Linked DNA regions of Homo sapiens. The protein of the gene in region 2 interacts with the protein of the main gene of each other region in a biochemical or structural test. Each region holds a gene or a part of one and is shown on either strand. Other genes may lie near its edges. The genes, in order: TRPM7 and PLCB3.

Region 1 (11,726 bases), on a different chromosome or scaffold from region 2:
TACCTTCAAAGAATCAGTTTTCGTTGTCATTGTTTTACTCTTGCTTTTCTGTTTTCAATTTATTTGATTTATTCTTTTTATTTTTCCATGTTTATACTCGCTTTAGGTGTAGTTTGTTCTTTTTCTAGTTTATTAAAGTAGAAACTTAGATTATTGATTCTCGGATCTTTATTTTATTTATTTATTTTGAGATGGAGTCTCACTCTGTCACCAGGCTGGAGTGCAGTGGCGTAATCTCTGCTCACTGCACCCTCCACCTCCCAGGTTCAAACGATTCTCCTGCTTCAGCCTCTTGAGTAACTGGCACTACAGGTACGTGCCACCACACCCAGCTAATTTTGTTACTTTTAGTAGAGTCAGGGTTTCACCATGTTGGCCAGGATTGTCTTGATCTCTTGACCTCGTGATCTACCCGACTCGGCCTCCCAAAGTGCTGGGATTACAGGTGTAAGCCACTGCGCCCGGCCTCAGATGTTTATTTCTAACAAGAGATTGAGTGCTATAATTTTCCCTCTAAGCATTGTTTTAGCTCCATCCCTCAAATTTGAGTATATTTTATTTTCATTTTTATTTACTTTAAAATAATTATAATTTCAGTTGTTATTCCTCTTTGATGTATGGATTGTCTTGTTTAGTTCTTAAATAGTTTAAAATTTTACAAATGTCTTTAATTGATTTCTTGCTTAATTCTATTATAAAAGAAACATACTTTGTACTATTTCAATTAAATTTTTTTTAATTGAAGTACAAGTTTATGGAGCTGGGTTCAGTGGCTCACACCTGTAATCCCAGCACTTTGGGAGGCCGAGGCAGGTGGATCACCTGAAGTCAGGAGGTCGATACCAACCTGGCCAACATAGTGAAACCCCATCTCTACTAAAAAATACAAAAATTAGCTGGGTGTGGCAGTGGGTGCCTGTAATCCCAGCTACTCAGTAAGCCAAGGCAGGAGAATCACTGGGACCTGGGAGGCAGAGGTTGCAATGAGCCAAGATTGCGCCACTGCACTCTGGCCTGGGCGACAGAGCAAGACTCCGTCTCAAAAAAAAAAAAACAAAAAGAGTTTATGGTCTCTGAGCATTCCATGTGCTTTGGAAAGTAATGTATATTCTGCTATTGTTGGATGGAGTATTCTGTAAATATTAATTAAAGTTTGTTGCTAGTGTTCGGAGTTCTTGTATCCTTGCTGGTTTTCTGTGTATTAGTTCTATTGATTAACTAGAAAGGAAGTCTCCAAATATAATTGGATTTGTCTGTCTTGCTTTTCAGTTCTGTCAGTTTTTCCTTCATGTGTTTTGAGGCGTTGTTCTTAGATGCATACACATATACTATTGTTAATGTCTTCTTGGCGAATTGATTATTTTATCATTGTGTATTAATAATATCATGGTAATTTTCCTTATTTTGACGTATACTTTTTCTAATATTAACATAACCACTCCAGCTATCTTTTGATTAATGTTTTCATCATATACCTTTTGCCAGTCTTTTTTTCAAAACATACACACACACATCTATATATAATTATATTTAAGGTGGGTTTCTTGTAGACAGCATATACTGAGGTTCTTGATTTTGTTTTAAATTTAAACAGTTTCCATTTTTTAAGCCAGCACGGTACCCCTGTAATCCCAGCACTTTGGGAGGCTAAGGAGGGCAGATCATTTGAGGTCAGGAGTTCGAGACCAGCCTGGCCAACATGGTGAAAACCTATCTCTACTAAAAATACAAAAATTAGCTGGGCGTGGTGGTGGGTGCCTGTAATCCCAGCTACTTGGGAGGCTGAGGCAGGCGAATTGCTTGAACCCGAGAGGCACAGGTTGCAGTGAGGAGAGATTGCACCACTGTGAGACAGAGTGAGACTCCATCTCAAAAAAAAAAAGCAATCTGGCCCAGATCCTTCATTTTCTAGATAATATAATTAAAGTTGAGATGATTTGCTCATTGATACACTTACTAGTTAACAATATAATTAAGGTGAGCTATAATTGTGTTTCTCTCCACTGTTCTTTGTACAGTAATCGCAGATTAGCTTATATCCCTAAAGCCATACTGACATAGTCTTGAATTTAAAATTTATCAAAAATAATTAATATAGTTGCAAATATGTTTGGATTGTTTAATATAGGCTGTTTCTTAGATTAAAATTAACAGTTTATGATTCAGTGAGGTCAAATATTTTTATTTTTTAAAAAATAAATTAGTTCATATTCTGAGTATCAGTTATATTTTATATGGAGATAAAAATATAAGGGTTTACGCCATGACACACATATACCTATATAACAAACCTGCATGTTCTGCACGTGTATCCTTTTTTTTAAAAAAATAAAAACATACATATATATATGTTAATGCATGACTTGGTTAGTTTATAATGTTGATATTACTGCATTGTTTCCAGTTCTGCAACTATTTTCATCTATGTCTGTAACTTCTTAAGTGATTTCTTCTTGTCCCATACCTATAAATATGTTTATGTACTTATCATAGCAAATCTGTCTGAAGACTTGACATATTTCCCAAGCTCCTGTTTCTGTTCAGCTACCTATATTTCTACTTGGATACTATTTTATTTTATTTTATTTTATTTTATTTTATTTTATTTTATTTTATTTTATTTTATTTTATTTTTTGAGACAGTCTCACTCTGTCACCCAGGCTGAAGCAGAGGGGTCCATCCTTTTGGCTTCCCTGGGCCACATTGGAAGAAAAATTGTTGGGCAGGCACCATGGCTCATGCCTGTAATCTCAGCACTTTGGGAGGCCGAAGTGGGCAGATCACTTGAGGCCAGGAGTTCAAGAGCAGCTTTGCCAATTATGGCAAAAACCAGTCTCTACTAAAAATATAAAAATTGGCCATGTGTGGTGTCACAGGCCTGTAATCCCAGCTACTTGGGGAGGCTGAGTCACAAGAATCGCTTGAACCACAGAGGTAGGGGTTTCAGTGAGCCGAGATCGTGCCACTGCACTTCAGCCTGGGCAACAACAAGACCTTGTCTCAAAAAAAAAAGAAGAATTGTCTTGGGCTACACATAAAATACACTGTCACTACCATAGCTGATGAGCTTAAAAAAATGCAAAAAAATGCCATCATGTTTTAAGAAAGTTTATGAATTTGTGTTGGGTTGCATGTGGCCTGTGGGCCGAGGGTCGGGCAGGCTTGCTATAAAGCATCTTTAGTAACGTGTCCAATCCAAAATTCTTGATTTATATCTCCCACCCTACATAGAACTCTGTTTCCCTATCTTATTAATGGTTACCCAGTTGCTCAAGTCCAAAACCTAAAACTATCCAATTCTTCTTTTCCCTTGCCCTTCATAGCCAATTCATCAAATTCTGTCTGTTCTAATTTTGAAATCTCCCTAGAATTCATCTGCTCTTCTCTGTCTTCATGGCTACCACCTTGTTTCCTGGACTGCTGCCACCCATCCTCTCACAAGAGTTTTCATAGTCATCAGAATAGTTCTTGAAACAAATCTGATGATGTTCCTCTCTTGAGACTGCTTAAAACCTTCCAGTGGATTTGTATTGTATCTGTACTTCTCATCATAGCTTGTATCTATGATGTATAAATGAAGATCAGCAAACTTCTGTAAAGGGCAAGGTAGCAAATATTTTAGGCTTTGTAGACCATGTGGTCTGTCCCAGCTACACAGTTCTACCGTCGTGGTGTGGAAATAACCACAGACTGTGAACAAATGAGTGTGACTGCATTCCAGTAAAACTACTTACAAAAACAGGCAACAGACCAGATTTGGCCCACAATCTGTAGTTGACAATCTTGGGCCATTAACTGCTGCTTGAGCTCAATTTCTACTAGTTTTCCTCTCATTCACTATGTAGAAGCCACACTGTCTTCTTACCATTCGCAAAGCACACTAAGTCCATTCCTTCTGACAGTCTTTGCAGTTAACCCTCCCTCTGCCTAGAACACTCCTCCTAGAGCTTTGATAGTTCACTTCTCAATATTAAGGTATTTACTCAAATCTCTTCCTCTGGCTTTCCTGCCCAGACCTGTTTGAAACAATCACCCTATACCATCTTCCATCTGTCCCTCATTATAATTCACTACACTCTTCTCTTCAAAGCACTTTTTTTTTTTTTTTTGAGACAGGATCTCACTCTGTCGCCCAGGTTGAAGTACAGTGGCATGATCTTGGGTCATTGCAATCTCTGCCTACTGGGGCTCAAACAGTCCTCCCACCTCGGCCTTCTGAGTAGCTGGGACTACAGGCGCACATCACCACACCTGGCTAATTTTTGTATTTTTTGTAGAGACAAGAGACTTCACCATGTTGGCCAGGCTGCTCTTGAACTCCTGACCTCAAATGATTCTCTCACCTTGGCCTTTCAAAGTGCTGAGATTACAGGCATGAGCCACTGCACCCTGCCTTCAAGGCACTTTTTACTGCTTATAATTCTGTCATTTTTCTGTTTGCTTATTTTTTGTCACCCACTAGAATATAAGCTCACTGAGACCAGTGAGCTTGTCTGGTTTGTTCACTGCTACATTCCCACGCCTACATGAGTTTCTGACTCATGGTCAATATGTAATTATTTGTTGAATGAATGAATGACTTCATTTTTATGTGTATAAATTTGGTGACTACTGAATTTATAACAACCTGATGGAAAACAAGTCTGACATGTTTGGAGAAAAATTGATTAGAAATGATCCTAATTCAGCCGGGCATGGTGGCTCACACCTATAATCCCAGCACTTTGGGAGGCCGAGGCAGGTGGATCACCTGAGGACGGGAGTTCAAGACCAGCCTGACCAACATGGTGAAACCCTGTCTCTACTAAAAATACAAAAAATTAGCCGGGCATGGTGGTGCATGCCTGTAATCCCAGCTATTTGGGAGGCTGAGGTAGGAGAATCGCTTGAACCCGGGAGGTGGAGGTTGCAGTGAACCGAGATCGCGCCATTGCACTCCAGCTTGGGCAACAAGAGCGAAACTCCGTCTTGAAAAGAAAATAAAAGGTTCCTAATTCTCCATTTCTAAGAAATACTAACTTTTTTCTTTTCTCTTTCTTTTTTTTTTTTAATTGTTGTGGGTGTTCAATGTAGATCTGAAGAGGAATGATTATACGCCTGATAAAATTATATTTCCTCAGGATGAGCCTTCAGATTTGAATCTTCAGCCTGGAAATTCCACCAAAGAATCAGAATCAACTAATTCTGTTCGTCTGATGTTATAATATTAATATTACTGAATCATTGGTTTTGCCTGCACCTCACAGAAATGTTACTGTGTCACTTTTCCCTCGGGAGGAAATTGTTTGGTAATATAGAAAGGTGTATGCAAGTTGAATTTGCTGACTCCAGCACAGTTAAAAGGTCAATATTCTTTTGACCTGATTAATCAGTCAGAAAGTCCCTATAGGATAGAGCTGGCAGCTGAGAAATTTTAAAGGTAATTGATAATTAGTATTTATAACTTTTTAAAGGGCTCTTTGTATAGCAGAGGATCTCATTTGACTTTGTTTTGATGAGGGTGATGCTCTCTCTTATGTGGTACAATACCATTAACCAAAGGTAGGTGTCCATGCAGATTTTATTGGCAGCTGTTTTATTGCCATTCAACTAGGGAAATGAAGAAATCACGCAGCCTTTTGGTTAAATGGCAGTCAAAATTTTCCTCAGTGTATTTAGTGTGTTCAGTGATGATATCACTGGTTCCCAACTAGATGCTTGTTGGCCACGGGAAGGGAAATGACTTGTTCTAATTCTAGGTTCACAGAGGTATGAGAAGCCTGAACTGAAGACCATTTTCAAGAGGGACGGTATTTATGAATCAGGGTTAGGCTCCATATTTAAAGATAGAGCCAGTTTTTTTTTTTAAATAGAACCCAAATTGTGTAAAAATGTTAATTGGGTTTTTTAAACATTGTTTTATCAAGTCACTGTTAAGTAGAAGAAAGCCATGGTAAACTGATACATAACCTAAATTATAAAAGCAGAAACCTAACTCACTCGTCAAGGGAAGTTACCTTTTGAGGAAAGTTAAAGTACTTTTTTCCCTATCTGTATCTATAGCAACAACCCAGAACTTACAAACTTCTCCAAAGATTTTATTGATTGTTATATCAAATCAGAATGTAAACATGAACTCTTGCATATATTTAAAATTGTGTTGGAACATTTGAACATGAATGCTGTTTGTGGTACTTAAGAAATTAATTCAGTTGGATTATCATTATGTGATACTGGCAGATTGCAGTGCAACCTTATGCCAATAAAATGTAATTTAACAGCCCCAGATATTGTTGAATATTCAACAATAACAAGAAAAGCTTTTCATCTAAGTTTTATGCTTTAATTTTTTTTCTTTTTTTTTCTTTTTCTTTTGTTTCCTTGGTACTAATTTTAATTTTTATTTGGAAGGGAGCAGTATAAAGCTTATTTGTATTTAGTAGTGTATCTCATAGATACAGACAAGGCAAGAGATGATAAGCTGTTTAAATAGTGTTTAATATTGATTGGGGGTGGGGAGAAAGAAAAAGTGTATTACTTAAAGATACTATATACGTTTTGTATATCATTAAATCTTTAAAAGAAATGAAATAAATTTATTGTTTACAGATGTTTAGTGAGTTTAATCATTCTGAAAAATTATCTGACATTTTCAGGGTGTCAATTTGAGTATCAGTTTTTTTAAATGAACCATTTGTATACCTGTGCTTTTGATCTCCTGTCCTGTACAATGTTTAAATTAATACTGATTTCTTACTGTCTTCTTAGAAATCTGTTTTTTGTTAGGCCAAAAAAGGGCAATATGGGCTGTCTGTTGATTTTTAATTTTATATTGATTATTTTCACAGGATTATAATAGTAGCTATACTTTTTTTTTTTTTTTTTTTTTTGAGACGGAGTCTCGCTCTGTTGCTTGGGCTGGAGTGCAGTGGTGCGATCTCAGCTCACCACAACCGCCGCCTTCCGGGTTTAAGTGATTCTCCTGCCTCAGCCTCCCGAGTAGCTGGGACTACAGGCACACGCCACCATGCCCAGCTAATTTTTATATTTTTAGTAGAGACAGGGTTTCACTATGTTGGCCAGTGTGGTCACAAACTCCTGACCTTGTGAGCCACCGCACCTGGCTGCTAACACTTATTTAGTGCCTACTGTGTACCAGACATTACTCTAAGTATTTCACATATATTAACCTACTTAATCCTTATAACAATGTTATAAAGAAATAGGTGTTATTATCCTGTTTTGCAGATTTGAAAGTCAAGGTGCTAGAGAGGTAAAGTAACGTCCATAAGATTCTTACGTTTATTTAATAATAAGTAGCAACGGTAGGATTTGAACCCAGGCTGGCTGCCTTTCATCTATACTGTTTTTGTTTTGTTTTGTTTTGTTTTGTTTTGTTTTGTTTGTCTTGGTGGGGCATGGTGGCTCATGCCTGTAATCCCAGCACTTCGGGAGGCCAAGGCAGGTGGATCACTTGGGCTCAGGAGTTTGAGACCAGCCTGGGCAACATGGCAAAATCCTATCTCTGCTAAAAAAAAAAATACAAAAATTAGGCCAGGTGCAGTGGCTCATGCCTGTAATCCCAGCACTTTGGGAGGCCAAGGTGGGCGGATCACAAGGTCAGGAGTTCGAGACCAGCCTGACCAACATAGTGAAACCCCGTCTCTACTAAAAATACAAAAAATTAGCTGGGCATGGCGGTGAGTGCCTGTAATCCCAGCTACTCAGGAGTCTGAGGCAGGAGAATTGCTTGAACCTGGGAGGTGGAGGTTGCAGTGAGCTGAGATCGTGCCATTGCGCTCCAGCCTGGGCAACAGTGCGAGACTCCGTCAAAAAAAAAAAAATAACTGGATGTGATGGTGTGCACCTGTAGTTCCAGCTACTTGGGAGACTGAGGTGGGAGGATCACTTGAGCCTGGGAGACTGAGGCAGCAGTGAGCTGAGATCATGCCACTGCTTTCCAACCTGGGCAACAGAGTGAGATCCTGTCTCAGAAAGAAAAAAAAAAAAAAGACAACCTCTTGCTCTGTTGCCCAGGCTGGAGTGTAGTAGCGTGATCATAGCTCACTGCAGCCGTAAACTCCTGGGCTCAAGCAATCCTCCTGCCACTGCCTCTTGATTAGGTGGAACCACAGGCATGCACCACCACACGTACCTAATTTTATATATATATTTTTTTATTTTTCATTTTTATTTATTTTTGTTTTTTTGAGTTGAAGTCTCACTCTGTTGCCCAGGCCGGAGTACAGTGGCACAATCTTGGCTCACTGCAACCTCTGCCTCCCAAGATCAAGCAATTCTCGTGCTTCAGCCTCCAAAGTAGCTGAGATTACAGGTACCCACCATAATGCCTGGCTGATTTTTGTATTTTTCGTAGAGACAAGGTTTCACCTTGTTGGCCAGGCTGATCTCAAACTCCTGACCTCAAGTGATCCACCTCCCCCGGCTACCCAAAGTACTGGGATTATAGGTGTGAGCCACCATGCCTGGGTAACACCCAACTAATTTTAAATATATATTTTGTAGAGATGGGGTCTAGCCTTGTTGCCCACGCTGGTCTCAAATTCCTGGGCTCAAGTGATCCTCTCGCCTGAGCTTCCCAAAGTGGTAGAATTGCAGGCATGAATTGCTGCACCCAGCCTCATCTGTGCTGTGAATTATGTGCTGTATTGACTCTCAAGCATGATGACCATTGGTGGTTTCTGTACCATTTCCTGTTACTTTACTGAAACACACCTACTCCATTAACTTCTTGGGTTAAGTCTAGAAAGTAACAGTTTACTTGTAAACCACATTTCTTATCCCCAATAAGTATTTTTTTAAGATTATTAAAGTTCATTATTACTACCCTATGATGTGAAAGTGTCATTTGCTTAATCTTTTTAATTTTTTATTCTCAACCTCATCTTACTGAAGAGAATAAAACTCTTTTACCATATTCTTAAAATGTGGAATTCTCGGCCAGGTGCAGTGGCTCACGCCTGTAATTCCATCACTTTGGGAGGCCAAGGTGGGTGGATCATCTGAGGTCAGGAGTTCAAGACCAGCCTGGCCAACATGGTGAAACCCCGTCTCTACTAAAAATACAAAAATTATCTGGGTGTGGTGGCGCGTGCCTGTAGGCCCAGCTACTCAGGAGGCTGAGGCAGGAGAATTGCTTGAACCCAAGAGGTGGAGGTTGCAGTGAGCCTAGATTGCTGCCACTGCACTCCAGCCTGGGTGACAGCAGAACTCTGTCTCAAAAAAAAGATGTGGAATTCTTTTCTGCAAATGTTCTCTAATAGTATACCTTCTTCAGTCTGTCGATATATGTATGCTATTATTTTACAAGTAATACATGTTGATTGTATTGGAAATTATAGAAAAGATTATATTGGATTGTTTAGAAAATATTTTTAAATGTGAAGAAAAATATAAAAATTACTCCCTTGTTCCACTTTCCCCACTCTCAAGTCAGACTATGTTGTTTTCATAGTTAGTAGCTAGCAGTCTACCCCACTAGATTATATGCTTCACAGAGGGAAGGGACCCTCAAGACTTCACTGGATTGAGTAGCACCCAATACCTTGCTTGCTGCCTGGTTTGTGATGGGCATACTGTAAGAAAAAAAAATCTGAATGACAAAATGTTTTTCCATAATACCAGACTTCCTCTTGAAGAGATGGGTCGTAATGTTGTAGTCTTACATGCTTACGTAGACAATCAAAGCAAGAATACTCAATAAATGGCTATTTACCACTTGAAAGAAAGATCAAGTAATTATTTACAGAAAATGATGTGTCTACACAACAGGGATTTTTGAATTTCTCCTTATTTACCATATCTGATCTTATTGCTTCCTAGCTGGGTTTCAACAAGGCATCTGTATTTAAAGGTCCCAAATGATCTGTGAGCTTTTTCTTAGGAAAATTCCAGGCTAAGGCTCTGGTCCTCTCTAGAATATGATTTTCTAACTTCTTTGGAAACTCCTTAAAGCAGATTTCCATTCCTGGGGCCCATGATTCCACATTGGTGGGCATGAAGATGGGAGAGGATGTGGTTATTCTTCAGAAAAGCCACACACTTCAGGCTAACAGTAAATAGCACCAGTGAACAGAGCACTTTCTTCTTGTGCTGTCCAAACCAACATTAGGCTCTCTCCTTGTATTTCCCTTGGAATTTCTGTGTAATCCTGCATTACAGAATTTTTCTTTCATTTTAATTATGTCAGTATATGTTTCTTAAAGATTAAGAACTATAACATTATTACACCTGAAAGTTTAACCAAAAATATTGTCAAATATGTAATCATTGCTCTAAAAAAAATTTGTTTTAAGTAATTTAATTAGGACACAGAAGGTCCATACATTGCAGTTCCTTGCTAGTTTTGTTTTGTTTTTATTGGAGGCAGAGTCTTGCTCTGTTGCCCAGGCTGAAGTACAGTGGAGTGATAACCTTCGCTTCCAGGTTCAAATGATTCTCCTGCCTCAGCCTCCGAAGTAGCTGGGTCTACAGGCACATGCTGCCACACCAGGCTAATTTTTGTATTTTTAGTAGGGACGGTGTTTCACCATGTTGGCCAGGCTGGTCTCGAACTCCTGACCTCAAGTGATCCACCTGCTTCCGCCTTCACCTCCCAAAGTGCTGGGATTATAGGCGTGAGCCATTGAACCCAGCCAACAATTGCTTGTTTTTAAAGTCTCTTAGTATGTAGGTTCTCTGTCTCATCTTTGCCCCCTGCTTATGTTTTAAAGAACCAACTTACTTGTCCTGAAAAGTTTACTACATTTGAGATTTTGCTGATTGTTTCCTGCATATGTCATAAACTAGTGGTTAGTTAGGTCTAAAGGCTTGATCAGATTCAGTATTGAATTTTTGGTAAGAATGCTTCATTGGTGGGGGTATATAATTCTGTTAGGAAACACATGCCTGGTTGTCTTTTTGATAGTCATTGCCTAGGTCTATTATTAATTAGGTCAGTGGTGCTCATGGTGGGTCACAGACCCCTGAGAGTCTCCCCAGGACAATTTCAAGGTGTACATAACATAAGGTCAAAACTTATAATACTAAGATATTATTCGCCTTTTTCGCTGTATTGAGAGTTTTATTGATGGAGTAAAAGCAGTGATGGGTAAAACTGCCAGAACCTTACCATGAATCAAGTGAAAATTGGAATTTTGGAAAACTTGACTTTAACACCAGTAGCACTACAGCTTCCTAATACTTTCCTAATGAAATCAGTAGTGTTGATATTAAAACTTGTTTTTTGGTTTTTGGTTTTTTTTGAGACGGAGTTTTGCTCTTGTTGCCCAGGCTGGAGTGCAGTGGCGTGATCTCCACTCACTGCAAACCCCGCCTCCCAGGTTCAAGTGATTCTCCTGCCTCAGCCTCCCAAGTAGCTAGGAGTACAGGCATGAGCCACCACGCCCGGCTAATTTTTGTGCTTTTAGTAGAGACGGGGTTTCACCATGTTGGCCAGGCTGGTCATGAACTCCTGACCTCAGGTGATCCACCCGCCTCGGCCTCCCAAAGCGCTGGGATTACAGGCATGAGCCACCGCACCAGGCCAAAAATGATTTTATTTAGATAGTGTATAATGAGATGTGTCAGTGTTTCGAAGATCTGCATAACTAAACCAGTATTTTCGGAATGACCAATGCATAGTATTACAAAATAATGCATGAGTGAAAGATCTAACATAGTAGAAAAGGTTTGTTTACGAGGTTTCAGAGTCTACATTACAGTTAACCTTTAGGAAACTACTTCT
Region 2 (11,726 bases):
TCAGGTTCCAGTCATGGGAGTCTGCAGCAACAAGAAGGGGGCTGTTCTAGGGCTCACTCTCGAAGACCAGGATGCTTGGGTCCTTAAAGGAGGTGGCAGGCGCCCGGCCTCCCTGGGCTAGGGACGGGGGAGGGGTGCCTGCCGGCGGGAGGTCCATTAGCCGGCTAAGTGCTCCCAGGGAGGGGGGACCGCGCGGCATAAGAGTGGGTGAGGCGAAGCCAGGGCAGAGGGGGGCGGAAGAAGCTTTTCCTGCATTCAGCTAAGTGCGGCAGAAGAGGGTGGGCGACAGGGCTGTGCAGCGACCCCCCGGCCCAAGTCTAGCCCTCCGCTGGTACTGCAGCCCTAGTCGCTCGGAAACCTCAGTGGGCTGATCCCGGACCGCCTTAAGCAGCGCCCTCTACACCCAGTCCCTCCAGCTGCTCCCCAACAGCCACTTCGGCCCCCAGCGCCCTCCTTCCACCACAGGCCTGAAGAATCAGGTTCTGCTGAGCCCCGCAGCAAAGCCCCCGACCCGTCCGCGTGCCCCTGCCCCAATCCCCGCTCCGGCTGCAGTCGCCGCCCCGGCCGCCAGGGGGAGCCGACGCGGTGGGAGGGGGCGGGGCCCGGGAGGCCCCGCCCCGTCCCCGCCCCGCCCGGGCCCCGCCGAGGCTCTGGTCGGTCCGGGACAGACTGGCGGGCGGGCGGGCACTGACGCCGCGGGGCCGGAGCGGGCCGCGCGGTGGGAGCAGCGGCGCCGTCGGTCCCCGTCAGGGCTCCGTGGGTCCCCGACCCGCCCCTGGCCGGGCCATGGCGGGCGCCCAGCCCGGCGTCCACGCGCTGCAGTTGGAGCCGCCCACCGTGGTGGAGACCCTGCGGCGCGGGAGTAAGTTCATCAAATGGGACGAGGTAAGCGCGCGGGCCCCTGCTCCGCCCAAATCCCGGGACTCTTTCAGTCAAGCTCGACCAGACGCTGGGGACCCCCACCCCAGCCTCGCCTGCCCGTGGCGCCACCCTCATCCCAGTCTGGCGGCGCCCCGGAAACTTAAGTCCCCGATCGTCTCCGTAATGAAGACTTTGTCCCCCCAACTCCCAGTCCCTCAGCTCTGGAAAATTTGCCTCCACTCCTTGGCGCAGAGACTTTGAACCCCAATAAACCCCGTCCCCCCGTTTTCCATTCGTTCTTCCCACCGCTCCCTGCCAGACTAATTCTCGTTCCCCGATCCTGGCCTGGTGCCCAGACCCCTGCCCAGCACTAGACTCCCCGGCTGCAGGACCCTGACTTCCAGGCTGGCTGGGGGCATCCTCATTCTGGGTGTGTGCCAGGGCGCCCCTACTCTCCCCGGTGCCCTGCCTGAACAGTCCTCGTCCATTCATCATTTTTCCCCCTGTTCTGGTTGGCACCCCTTCGCCCTGCTTCTGGATCCCAGCCCAGCTCCCTGTTCAGATGGGAGCACCCAGTCACCCCCTAGTGGAGACTTTGCCCCCCAAGTTCCTCCACCCCTGGGAACTTTGCTCCCCACTCCTTAGGCTTGGGACCTTGAACCCCAATACATCCTGGCCCCCCTTTCCCTGTCCTGCCCCTGGTGCTTCCCAAATGCCTGTGTCCCCACCTTCGGCTGCCCATCCCCATCCTGGGTGCATCCTCTTCTGCCCCCTGGGCCCTTCCTTCCCTAGGGCCTCCACCCGGCCGGCCTGAGCTTCCTCGCAGCTCCTTCCCAGTCAGGCCACGGGCCTGGAAGACTCTGGGCTCTTTTCCGGCTGGGTGGGGCCCCGGGGTAGGCGTGGGAGCTGGGGGGAGGAGATGGGGGCGTGGCCTGAAGCGGCAGGTGTGCGAGGTGGGGTGCCTGGGGGCCCCAGGGGCCGGGGGAGACCCCTCCCCCCAGGCTGGCCTGAAGGGAAAAGTTTCTTCTTTTCATTCCACTGTGATAAACCCAAATAAGGAAGTGGGAACAGGGAGAGGGCCCTGGGGGTGGGGTGGGGGGTGCTGACGGAGGCTTGGGGCAGGAGAGCAGGGGACCTGGGCTGCCTTTGAGGTCCAGACCCCTGGGGAGAGGTGGGAGGGAAACACTAGGGGCAGTACCCATAGACTCCCCGCTCTGCACACCATTCGGGGGCCTCAGGCCCAGGGTAGGGTTGGGAATCCGGAGAAGTGCTGGGGCTGGGTGTCAGCACACTGAAGTGGGGAGGCCCATGCATCCCCAAATTTTGGGGGCCTTCTGTTCCCAGATGAACGCCCATCTTTTGTAAGCAAAGCCTGCCATGGGTGGGGCTGGTGCAATCCCCATTCTCCAGAAGAGGAAACTGAGGTCTGGAAAGCAGAGAGTTATCCCAGGCCCCACAATGGGGTGTGGCTGAGGCCAGGAGCCGGGAGCCTGGCAGAAGTCTCCGCTCCCTGCTTCCCAGGTCACAGGACGCTGCAACCACACTGCCTGCAAGCAGGTCCTGGCTCCAGTGATCTCGGGCAGGCTACGAAGTGTCCCTGTAACTCAGTGTCCTCATCTGTAAAATGGGAGTGACAACAGCACATGCCTCTTAGGCTGGTTAGGAGGCCTTTGTGTGCTCGAAGATGCTAGGTGCATAGAACTGTACCTGGTGCGCAGTAGGGGCGGTGTGCGTATATGAGATGTATTGATAATAATAGTATTGTCCACCAGACACTGAGATGCATTTTGGGGGTGGCACCCAACATGAGGTGGGGTCCTTTTCTGTCTGGAAGAACCTGGAATAGGAGGGTTCTACCTGTAGCCACTTGTTCACTCTGGCCCTGGCCGAGTCTAAGCCCTGGAGGACAGCCCCTCTGGCTGCTGGTCCTGAGTCACACAGGGTGGCCCTGGTAGTGTGCCAGGGACCGGGCCCTTCTTAGAAAATGGGGCTGGCATGCACTTCCCTGCCCCCTGCCAGCTGCACGGCTGTTTGAGGGAGGAAGAGCTCACTGCCCAGTCCTGAGAGTAGGGCAAGTCCCCTTCTAGGGGGACTGTTCTTCTACGAGATGGGGATGAGCTTTGAGGCTGTGAGGACCCCGGCAGATGTGGTAAGGTGGATAATGGGCTTTGAGGCAGACCACAGGGCTATCGTGATGTCCCAAGGGATGCAGAAGGGCAGTGGGAGTCAGACTTCTCACTTTCATGCCTTAAACATTCTGCAGTGGGGTGGATTGGGGGGCTGCCACTGTCACAGAGCTCTCAGCACTTCTGGGGAAACTGAGCCCAGGATGGGGGCTGGGGACCTCTTCCAGGGGGTGGGTCAGATTTCACGGGTGGAGAAGGAAGGGCAGGGTGTCCTGGCAAAGGGAACATGAGACAAAGCCCTGGGAAAGGTCAGGTAGAATCCTAGGGCCAGAGGGAGGTGAGGCTGGGAAGAGGCTTTGAGGTAGGTGTGACACTAAATGTCACACCTAGGACCTTGGCTTTGTTCTGAGGGCCACAGGCAGCCACACAGGACCTGTGGACTGGATGAGGTTTCGTCTTAGCTCATGGGCAGGAACTCTGGGGTGCATGATGGGAGGGCCCCAGGGGCCAGGCCTGCACCACAGCCCTCACTTCCTGACCCCTGCTGCCCTGTGCTGTCCTCAGGAGACCTCCAGTCGGAACCTGGTGACCCTGCGTGTGGACCCCAATGGCTTCTTCTTGTACTGGACGGGCCCCAACATGGTGAGGGTGGGCGCTGGTGCAGCTCGCTCAGGCCAAGGACCCCTGTCCCAGACCCCTGCCCTGCCCGTGGGGGTGGGGCCCGGCTGCAGGCTGACCTCTCCCACTGCTGCCCAGACAGGAAGTGCTCAGGGCAGGAGCTGAGGCTGGGGCTATAGCCAGGGGCTGGCCATTCCCTGGCCTGGGTAGAGAGCTTGGAAGCTCCTGGCTATTGCCCTGCAGCCTCTCATACTCAGCCTGGCATCTGGTTCCCCCCAGGAGGTGGACACACTGGACATCAGTTCCATCAGGGACACACGGACAGGCCGGTACGCCCGCCTGCCCAAGGTGAGTGATGAGCCTGGGAGTGAAGACCACAGCGAGGCTGTGCGGGAGCCCCCTCTTCACCCTTCGCTGTCACCTACTCAGGACCCCAAGATCCGGGAAGTTCTGGGCTTTGGGGGTCCCGATGCCCGGCTGGAGGAGAAGCTGATGACGGTGGTGTCTGGGCCAGACCCAGTGAACACAGTGTTCTTGAACTTCATGGCCGTGCAGGATGACACAGCCAAGGTGGGCTGGCACCAAGGGGACGAAGGGGGAGTCACTGTCTTATTCTGTGAGTCGGCCGTCACTTACCGAACACCTGCTGTGTTCTAGGCTGCTCTGTGACCTACTGTGTACCAGAGGCAGTTGTGGACCTGGGTTGTGGCTGGGCAGCCCCTGTGTCCCCCACTCACCGCCTCCCCGTGTATACTGGCCCCCCAGGTCTGGTCTGAGGAGCTATTCAAGCTGGCTATGAACATCCTGGCTCAGAACGCCTCCCGGAACACCTTCCTGCGCAAAGCGTGAGCCCCAGGCCACCCGAGGGGGAGCCGGGGGGTTCACGTGGCCGTTTTCAGGGTGTGACCTCTTCATCTGCCTTCCCAGATACACGAAGCTGAAGCTGCAGGTGAACCAGGATGGTCGGATCCCCGTCAAGAAGTGAGCACCCCTTCCCCCAGCACCTTCCTCCTGCCCTGACCTTGGTGACCTTTGTCCTCCACTGACCCTGAACCCCTCCTGCCCGCATCAGCATCCTGAAGATGTTCTCAGCAGACAAGAAGCGGGTGGAGACTGCGCTGGAATCCTGTGGCCTCAAATTCAACCGGGTGTGTGGGGTGGGGACAGGGGCGGGGTGGGGTGTCACGGTGGGCACCCACCCTTACGGGGCTGCCCGCCCCTGGCTTCTCACCCCACACTCCTCGACCTCCAGAGTGAGTCCATCCGGCCTGATGAGTTTTCCTTGGAAATCTTTGAGCGGTTCCTGAACAAGCTGTGTCTGCGGCCGGACATTGACAAGATCCTGCTGGAGATGTGAGTGGGCCCGGCCTGCCTCACAACCCCTGTGCTCTGTGTTTAGCTTCTGCTTAGCGTGCCTCTAGCTCAATGGGGAGAGGGGAAACTGGTGGGCCGGGTCCTGGAGCGCCAGGGGGCGGAGGGGTGCCCAGGGAGAACCTGTCGGTGATGTTCCTGTACTCAGACCCGCCGTTTCTGCCCCTCAGTTACAGGCAGCTCTGGGCTAACCCTGTGCCAGGGTTGGTTTAATCAGCCCACTCTGCAATGGGGTCCAAGCCTCAGGTGTGTTGTGAGGTCTGGAAGCGAGGGGTGGTGGGCTGACCACTTGGCAGCTCCTAAGCCCTGGCCATTGCTGGTGCCCACTAGTCTGCTGCCTTGACAATCCTGAGTAGTCAGGAGAGTAAAGGGGGAAACTGAGGCCCAGAGGTTGGCCATGACTCACCCAGAGTCCCACTCACTGGGTGCCAGATCCAGGGGCAGGCCTTCTGACTCCCTTGCCCAGGGCAAGGGCTTGGCGACGGGGTGGGAGCCCTGCCAGGCTCCATCCTGACCCAGCTTCCTGTCCCCTCCAGAGGCGCCAAGGGCAAGCCATACCTGACGCTGGAGCAGCTCATGGACTTCATCAACCAGAAGCAACGCGACCCGAGACTCAACGAAGTGCTGTACCCGCCCCTGCGGCCCTCCCAGGCCCGGCTGCTCATCGAAAAGTATGAGCCCAACCAGCAGTTTCTGGAGCGAGGTGAGCTGGCTGGGGTGCAGGTGGGTGGGGGCAGGTGGGACCCCAGCTGACCCTGCTGATCCTCTCCCACCCCAGACCAGATGTCCATGGAGGGCTTTAGCCGCTACCTGGGAGGCGAGGAGAATGGCATCCTGCCCCTGGAAGCCCTGGATCTGAGCACGGACATGACCCAGCCACTGAGTGCCTACTTCATCAACTCCTCGCATAACACCTATCTCACTGGTGAGTGGGGAGCAAGGGTGGCACCCGTGACCTCTGCCCTGTGACCCTTGCACAGCCCCACTCCTCCTGGGGCACAGTCCTTTTGGCCCATTTGCTCATTCATTGGCCAGTGCTGGGGATGCAGGCAGGGAACAGGCAGCCAGCCCTGAGCAGTGGGGCCTCATGGTGGCTTTCCCAGGGAAGGGCTGGAACAGCTTGTGTTAGGGCCTGCAGCAGGAGAGACTTCAGGGTCCTTTTTTTTTTTTTTTTTTTTTTTTGAGACAGAGTTTCGCTCTTGTTGCCCAGGCTGGAGTGCAATGGCACGATCTAGGCTCAGCGCAACCTCTGCCTCCCAGGTTCAAGCGATTCTCCTGCCTCAGCCTCCCAAGTAGCTGGGATTACAGGCATTCGCCACCACGCCCGGCTAATTTTGTATTTTTAGTAGAGATGGGGTTTCTCCATGTTGGTCAGGCTGGTCTCAAACTCTCAACCTCAGGTGATCCGCCTGCCTCGCCCTCCCAAAGTGCTGGGATTATAGGCATGAGCCACCTCGCCCAGCCTGCAGGGTGCTTTTAAGAGGCTGGAAGGGGGTTGGGTGCGGTGACTCATGCCTGTAATCCCAGAACTTTGGGAGGCTGAAGCAGGCAGATTACTTGAGCCCACGTTTTGAGACCAGTCTGGGCAACATAGCATGACCCCATCTCTACAAATAATTTTTAAAAAATTAGCTGGGCATAGTGGCGCATGCCTGTGGTCCTAGCTGCTTGGGAGGGTGAGGTGGGAGTATCGCTTGGTTCTGGGAAGGTTGAGGCAGGAGTAAGCTGTGATTGCACCACTGCACTCCAGCCTGGGTGACAGAGTGAGAGACCCTTTTCTAAAAAAAAAAATTAAATAAATAATAAAAAAGCAGAAAGGAAGCTGGTGCGGCAGGGTGCAGAGTGCTGGAGATAGGTGCCTGCTAAGAGAGGGAGAGCAAGGCAGGGCTAAGCCCAGGGGCCTAGAGGCACTTGGATTCATCCTGGGTGTGAGGAAGAGGCTTTTTGGAGGGTGAAGCAGAAGAGGTGATGTGACCTGATATGATATGTTTTTAGAAGGATGATGCCAGGTGCTCTATAGAGATTGGATTGAGGCCAGGCACAGTGGTTCACACCTGTAATCCCAGAACTTTGAAAGGCTGAGGCGTGTGGATCACCTGAGGTCAGGAGTTCGAGACCAGCCTGGCCAACATGGTGAAACCCCATCTCTACTAAAAATACAAAAATTAGCCAGGCATGGTGGTGGGCAACTGTAATCCCAGCTACTCGGGAGGCTGAGGCAGGAGAATCGCTTGAACCAGGGAGGCGGAGGTTGCAGTGAACCGAGGTTGTGCCACTGCACTCCAGCCTGGGTGACAGAGCGAGGTTCCGTCTCAAAAAAAAAAAAAAAAGAGATTGGATTGGAGGCAGGGAGGGCTGGAGTCTTCCACACAGGAGGTGGTGTGAGCTGTGCCAGGGCTGAGGTGGGTGGAGGGAGTGAGGAGAGGGAGGGATTGTTGAGGCAGTGGGGAGCTATAGTGAGTCTCAGGGATGACTCCCCCCAGCTCACGCTGGTGGGATGGACAGGTGGTGGGTATCCATCTGAGAGATGGAGAGCCCTCTGCAAATCCAGCATGTCCTGGTTCCAGGTGGGGCCGGGGTGGTGAGGAGCTGGGCTGGTGGGCGGCCTCGGTGACAGAGCCTCGCCGCCCCAGCGGGGCAGCTGGCTGGGACCTCGTCGGTGGAGATGTACCGCCAGGCACTACTATGGGGCTGCCGCTGCGTGGAGCTGGACGTGTGGAAGGGACGGCCGCCTGAGGAGGAACCCTTCATTACCCACGGCTTCACCATGACCACAGAGGTGCCTCTGCGCGACGTGCTGGAGGCCATTGCCGAGACTGCCTTCAAGACCTCGCCCTACCCCGTCATCCTCTCCTTCGAGAACCATGTGGACTCGTGAGTGAGCCCCTGGCATGAAACCCCATGGACCGGGGGACAGTCTTCCAGCTTCAGTGCTGTTGGACTGCTCAGGGACCTCCAACCCTGCGAACGGCCACTGACATGTCCCGTAGACCTCAGCTTCCTCTCTGGGGGAGGGATCTCTGACCTCTGACCTCGGTTCCGCAGGGCAAAGCAACAGGCAAAGATGGCTGAGTACTGCCGCTCCATCTTTGGAGACGCGCTACTCATCGAGCCTCTGGACAAGTACCCGGTACGGGAGCTCGGAGCGAGGGGGGTGGCATGGGGGCCAGGGTGCTGCGGACCCGGTCCAGGGCCCTGACTCGTCCATGCCTGCCCAGCTGGCCCCAGGCGTTCCCCTGCCCAGCCCCCAGGACCTGATGGGCCGTATCCTGGTGAAGAACAAGAAGCGGCACCGACCCAGCGCAGGTGGCCCAGACAGCGCCGGGCGCAAGCGGCCCCTGGAGCAGAGCAATTCTGCCCTGAGCGAGAGCTCCGCGGCCACCGAGCCCTCCTCCCCGCAGCTGGGTAGGCCCCAGCCCGGCCCGCCACCCTGACTTGACCCTAGCCTCTGGCCTCATGCTCCAGGCGCCGTGACACTTCATCCCAGACCCCCAGCCCACCCTCCTGCCTCGCTGTGCGCCTGTTCCCACAACCGGCCTGTCTCCTCACCACCTGTCGGCTGGTGTGGGGCCTCTGACCCCTGACCTCAGGTGCACGTCTCACCCAGCTGCACCCCAACTCCTGACTCCCAACCTCAGCCTCTCACCTCTCAGAGCCTTCCCACAACCCGGTGATGGCTCTGAAGGCTGACCTCTGACCTCAGTAAACCACATCCCACACTGGGTGTGACCTCAGACCCCTAAGCCCGCATTGAGTTCACCTGCCCAGTTGGTTATCATTTCAGCTGACCTCTGACCTCTCACCCCTGACTGTTCACCTCACTATGCCCCCTCCTTAGACATGGCTCTGACTTACCCCTGACCTGTAACCTCTCTATGTCATCCCTTACCCCGCTATTAGGGCTGTGGTATGCTACTTCCTGACTTCTCACCCCACTGAACCACCCTATCTGCCTCCCTGCTGAATATCACTGCAGACCTTTACCTTTGACCTATGACCCCTCTCAACCCATACTGGGTTAATACCATCTGACCTCGACCTCTTGGCCTCTCCCCAAGCCACACTGCCCTGAGAGTACCCCTTGAATTCCCCACTGAGTCACCTCGGCACACACTGGGAAAAACCCCTCCAGACTTCCTAAGCAGCTGTGTGGTCCTGACCCCTCACCCTGTGGCCCTGTCCTCTGCAGGGTCTCCCAGCTCTGACAGCTGCCCAGGCCTGAGCAATGGGGAGGAGGTAGGGCTTGAGAAGCCCAGCCTGGAGCCTCAGAAGTCTCTGGGTGACGAGGGCCTGAACCGAGGCCCCTATGTTCTTGGACCTGCTGACCGTGAGGATGAGGAGGAAGATGAGGAAGAGGAGGAACAGACAGACCCCAAAAAGCCAACTACAGATGAGGTCAGGCCCACAGGGTGGGCAGGTCGGGGAGGTAGCATCTATTTACCTCCCAGGGGGCTGGGTCTGACCATCAACAAGACTGACATCACCCCTGCCTCCTGGGGCTCAGTGTGGGTGTGAGTGAAGGTGGGAGGAGGGCTCTTCAGTCATCAGGCATGGAAACAAGCATACAGTTCTGCTGGTGATGTGGCCTGGGAGGTGCGAGTTAGGGTACAGAACTGGCAGAGGATAGGGAGTCTACCCTGGGCAGGGAGGTGGGGCAGGGAGACCTCAGGAAGGGGGACAGCATGTACAAAGGTCCTGGGGCAGGGCCAGGGGGTGCAGGAGCGGGGAGCATTGTCATGGGGAGCATTGAGTAGCTGTGAGGAATGGTACAGAAAAAATCAGTCTGAGCTGGGCGTGGTGGCTCACACCTGTGATCCCAGCTACTCGGGAGGCTGAGGCATGAGAATCCCTTGAACCTGGGAGGTGGAGGTTGCAGTGAGCTGAGATTGCACCATTGCACTCCAACGTGGGCTAAAAAGGGAGACACTATCTCAAAAAAAAAAAAAAAAAAAAAAGACATCATTGCTATAAAGACAATTACTGGAGCAATTAGTGAAATTTAAAGATGGACTACATATTAGATAATATGTTAATGTTTTGTTTCCTGAATTTAATTATTGTATTGGAGTTATAGAAGAGAATGTCCATATATGCTGAAGTATTTATGGGTAAAGGGTCATGATGTCTATAATTTACTCCCAAATGATTCAGTAAAAGTAATGATAATTATAACACCTATATGGGCCAGGCGAGGTGGCTCATGCCTGTAATCCCAGCACTTTGGGAGGCTGAGGTGGGCGAGTCACCTGAGGTTGGGAGGTTCCAGACCAGCCTGGCCAACATGGTGAAACCCCATCTCTACTAAAAATACATAAATTAGCCGGGCAAGGTGGCGGGCGCCTGTAATCCCAGCTACTTGGGAGGCTGAGGCAGGAAAATTGCTTGAGCTGGGTGGTGTCCAGGGCGCATCAGTGAGACCCCGGGGAGAAGACTGTCGGCACCACCAGCAGTGTGTATATAGTGCTGGGAAGAGGGTCAGCACCTCCTTCATGGGGGGCAGGTGAGGGAATGGCCAGCTGTGGCGGGAATGGCACTGCTGACCCTGGGTTGGGGCCCACAGGGCACAGCCAGCAGCGAGGTGAATGCCACTGAGGAGATGTCCACGCTTGTCAACTACATCGAACCTGTCAAGTTCAAGTCCTTTGAGGCTGCTCGAAGTGAGTGGGGGTGGGTGGCAGGCATGGGAGCTTGCCCAGCTCAGCCCTGCCAGGTCTGACGCCCTTTCTTGGCTCACCCCTAAGAGAGGAACAAATGCTTCGAGATGTCGTCCTTTGTGGAGACCAAGGCCATGGAGCAACTGACCAAGAGCCCCATGGAGTTTGTGGAGTATCCTTTGAAGGTGCTGTGGGCGGGCAGGCCAGGGTGGGGCGCTCGGAGGCCGGCTCCGGTGTTCTGTCCCCACATATGCCACCTGCACAGGGTGCTGGCCCTCCGGCGGCCCTCCTGCACCCTGGCCTGGGGCTTGGGCAGATCCAGGCAGTCTCAGGGGGCATGGCTAGGCTAAGAAACAGAGGCCGGGTGTGGGGGTCACAGGAGCACCTGGCTGAGGCCGGAGGTGGAGGCTGATGGGGTGGGCCCTGGCACCTGTGTGGCCCCTGACCACCAATCTCAGATACAACAAGCAGCAGCTCAGCCGCATCTACCCCAAGGGCACCCGCGTGGACTCCTCCAACTACATGCCCCAGCTCTTCTGGAACGTAGGGTGCCAGCTTGTTGCGCTCAACTTCCAGACCCTCGGTGAGCCCTGGCCCCCTCCATCTTGACCCCGACCCTCAGTCTTACTGACTTCTGACCCACGATCCTGCTGGTCTTGCCTGAATGGACCTCTGACCCTGTCTCATCCCAGATCCCAGGGGAACCCAGCTCCCGACTCACCCCGCCTCCTGCCCTTGGCTGATACCAGACCCCTCCCCTGTCTGATCTGTCCTGGATCCGGACCCTGATGCCATTTGAGCCCGCCCCTGACCCTGGACCTTGGATGCCATCTGACCTGATGATCTCCCATTCCCCACATGGCACCGTCCTGCCTGATCCCTGCCCCTGCTCGACGTGCCCGTGGCACCCCAGATGTGGCGATGCAGCTCAACGCGGGCGTTTTTGAGTACAACGGGCGCAGCGGGTACCTGCTCAAGCCGGAGTTCATGCGGCGGCCGGACAAGTCCTTCGACCCCTTCACTGAGGTCATCGTGGATGGCATCGTGGCCAATGCCTTGCGGGTCAAGGTGGGGCTTGCGGGCGGCTCAGGCCAGG

Evidence for each region.
Region 1: the proteins of PLCB3 (region 2) and TRPM7 form a complex in vitro, tested with the Homo sapiens proteins (one study listed by BioGRID).

The regions. Positions count from the first base shown.
Region 1 is NC_000015.10:50,555,157-50,566,882, reverse strand, and holds the end of TRPM7 (transient receptor potential cation channel subfamily M member 7), read left to right. Parts: intron 1-5,074; coding exon 5,075-5,205; 3' UTR 5,206-9,725; downstream 9,726-11,726. UniProt on the Homo sapiens protein: Bifunctional protein that combines an ion channel with an intrinsic kinase domain, enabling it to modulate cellular functions either by conducting ions through the pore or by phosphorylating downstream proteins via its kinase domain.
Region 2 is NC_000011.10:64,250,864-64,262,589, forward strand, and holds the start of PLCB3 (1-phosphatidylinositol 4,5-bisphosphate phosphodiesterase beta-3), read left to right. Parts: upstream 1-666; 5' UTR 667-786; coding exon 787-885; intron 886-3,551; coding exon 3,552-3,629; intron 3,630-3,884; coding exon 3,885-3,953; intron 3,954-4,034; coding exon 4,035-4,175; intron 4,176-4,370; coding exon 4,371-4,450; intron 4,451-4,532; coding exon 4,533-4,586; intron 4,587-4,677; coding exon 4,678-4,753; intron 4,754-4,857; coding exon 4,858-4,958; intron 4,959-5,512; coding exon 5,513-5,679; intron 5,680-5,754; coding exon 5,755-5,901; intron 5,902-7,609; coding exon 7,610-7,850; intron 7,851-8,021; coding exon 8,022-8,106; intron 8,107-8,194; coding exon 8,195-8,381; intron 8,382-9,165; coding exon 9,166-9,371; intron 9,372-10,536; coding exon 10,537-10,633; intron 10,634-10,717; coding exon 10,718-10,802; intron 10,803-11,088; coding exon 11,089-11,213; intron 11,214-11,322; coding exon of another isoform or gene 11,323-11,396; exon of another isoform or gene 11,397-11,503; intron 11,504-11,543; coding exon 11,544-11,698; and 1 more. UniProt on the Homo sapiens protein: Catalyzes the production of the second messenger molecules diacylglycerol (DAG) and inositol 1,4,5-trisphosphate (IP3).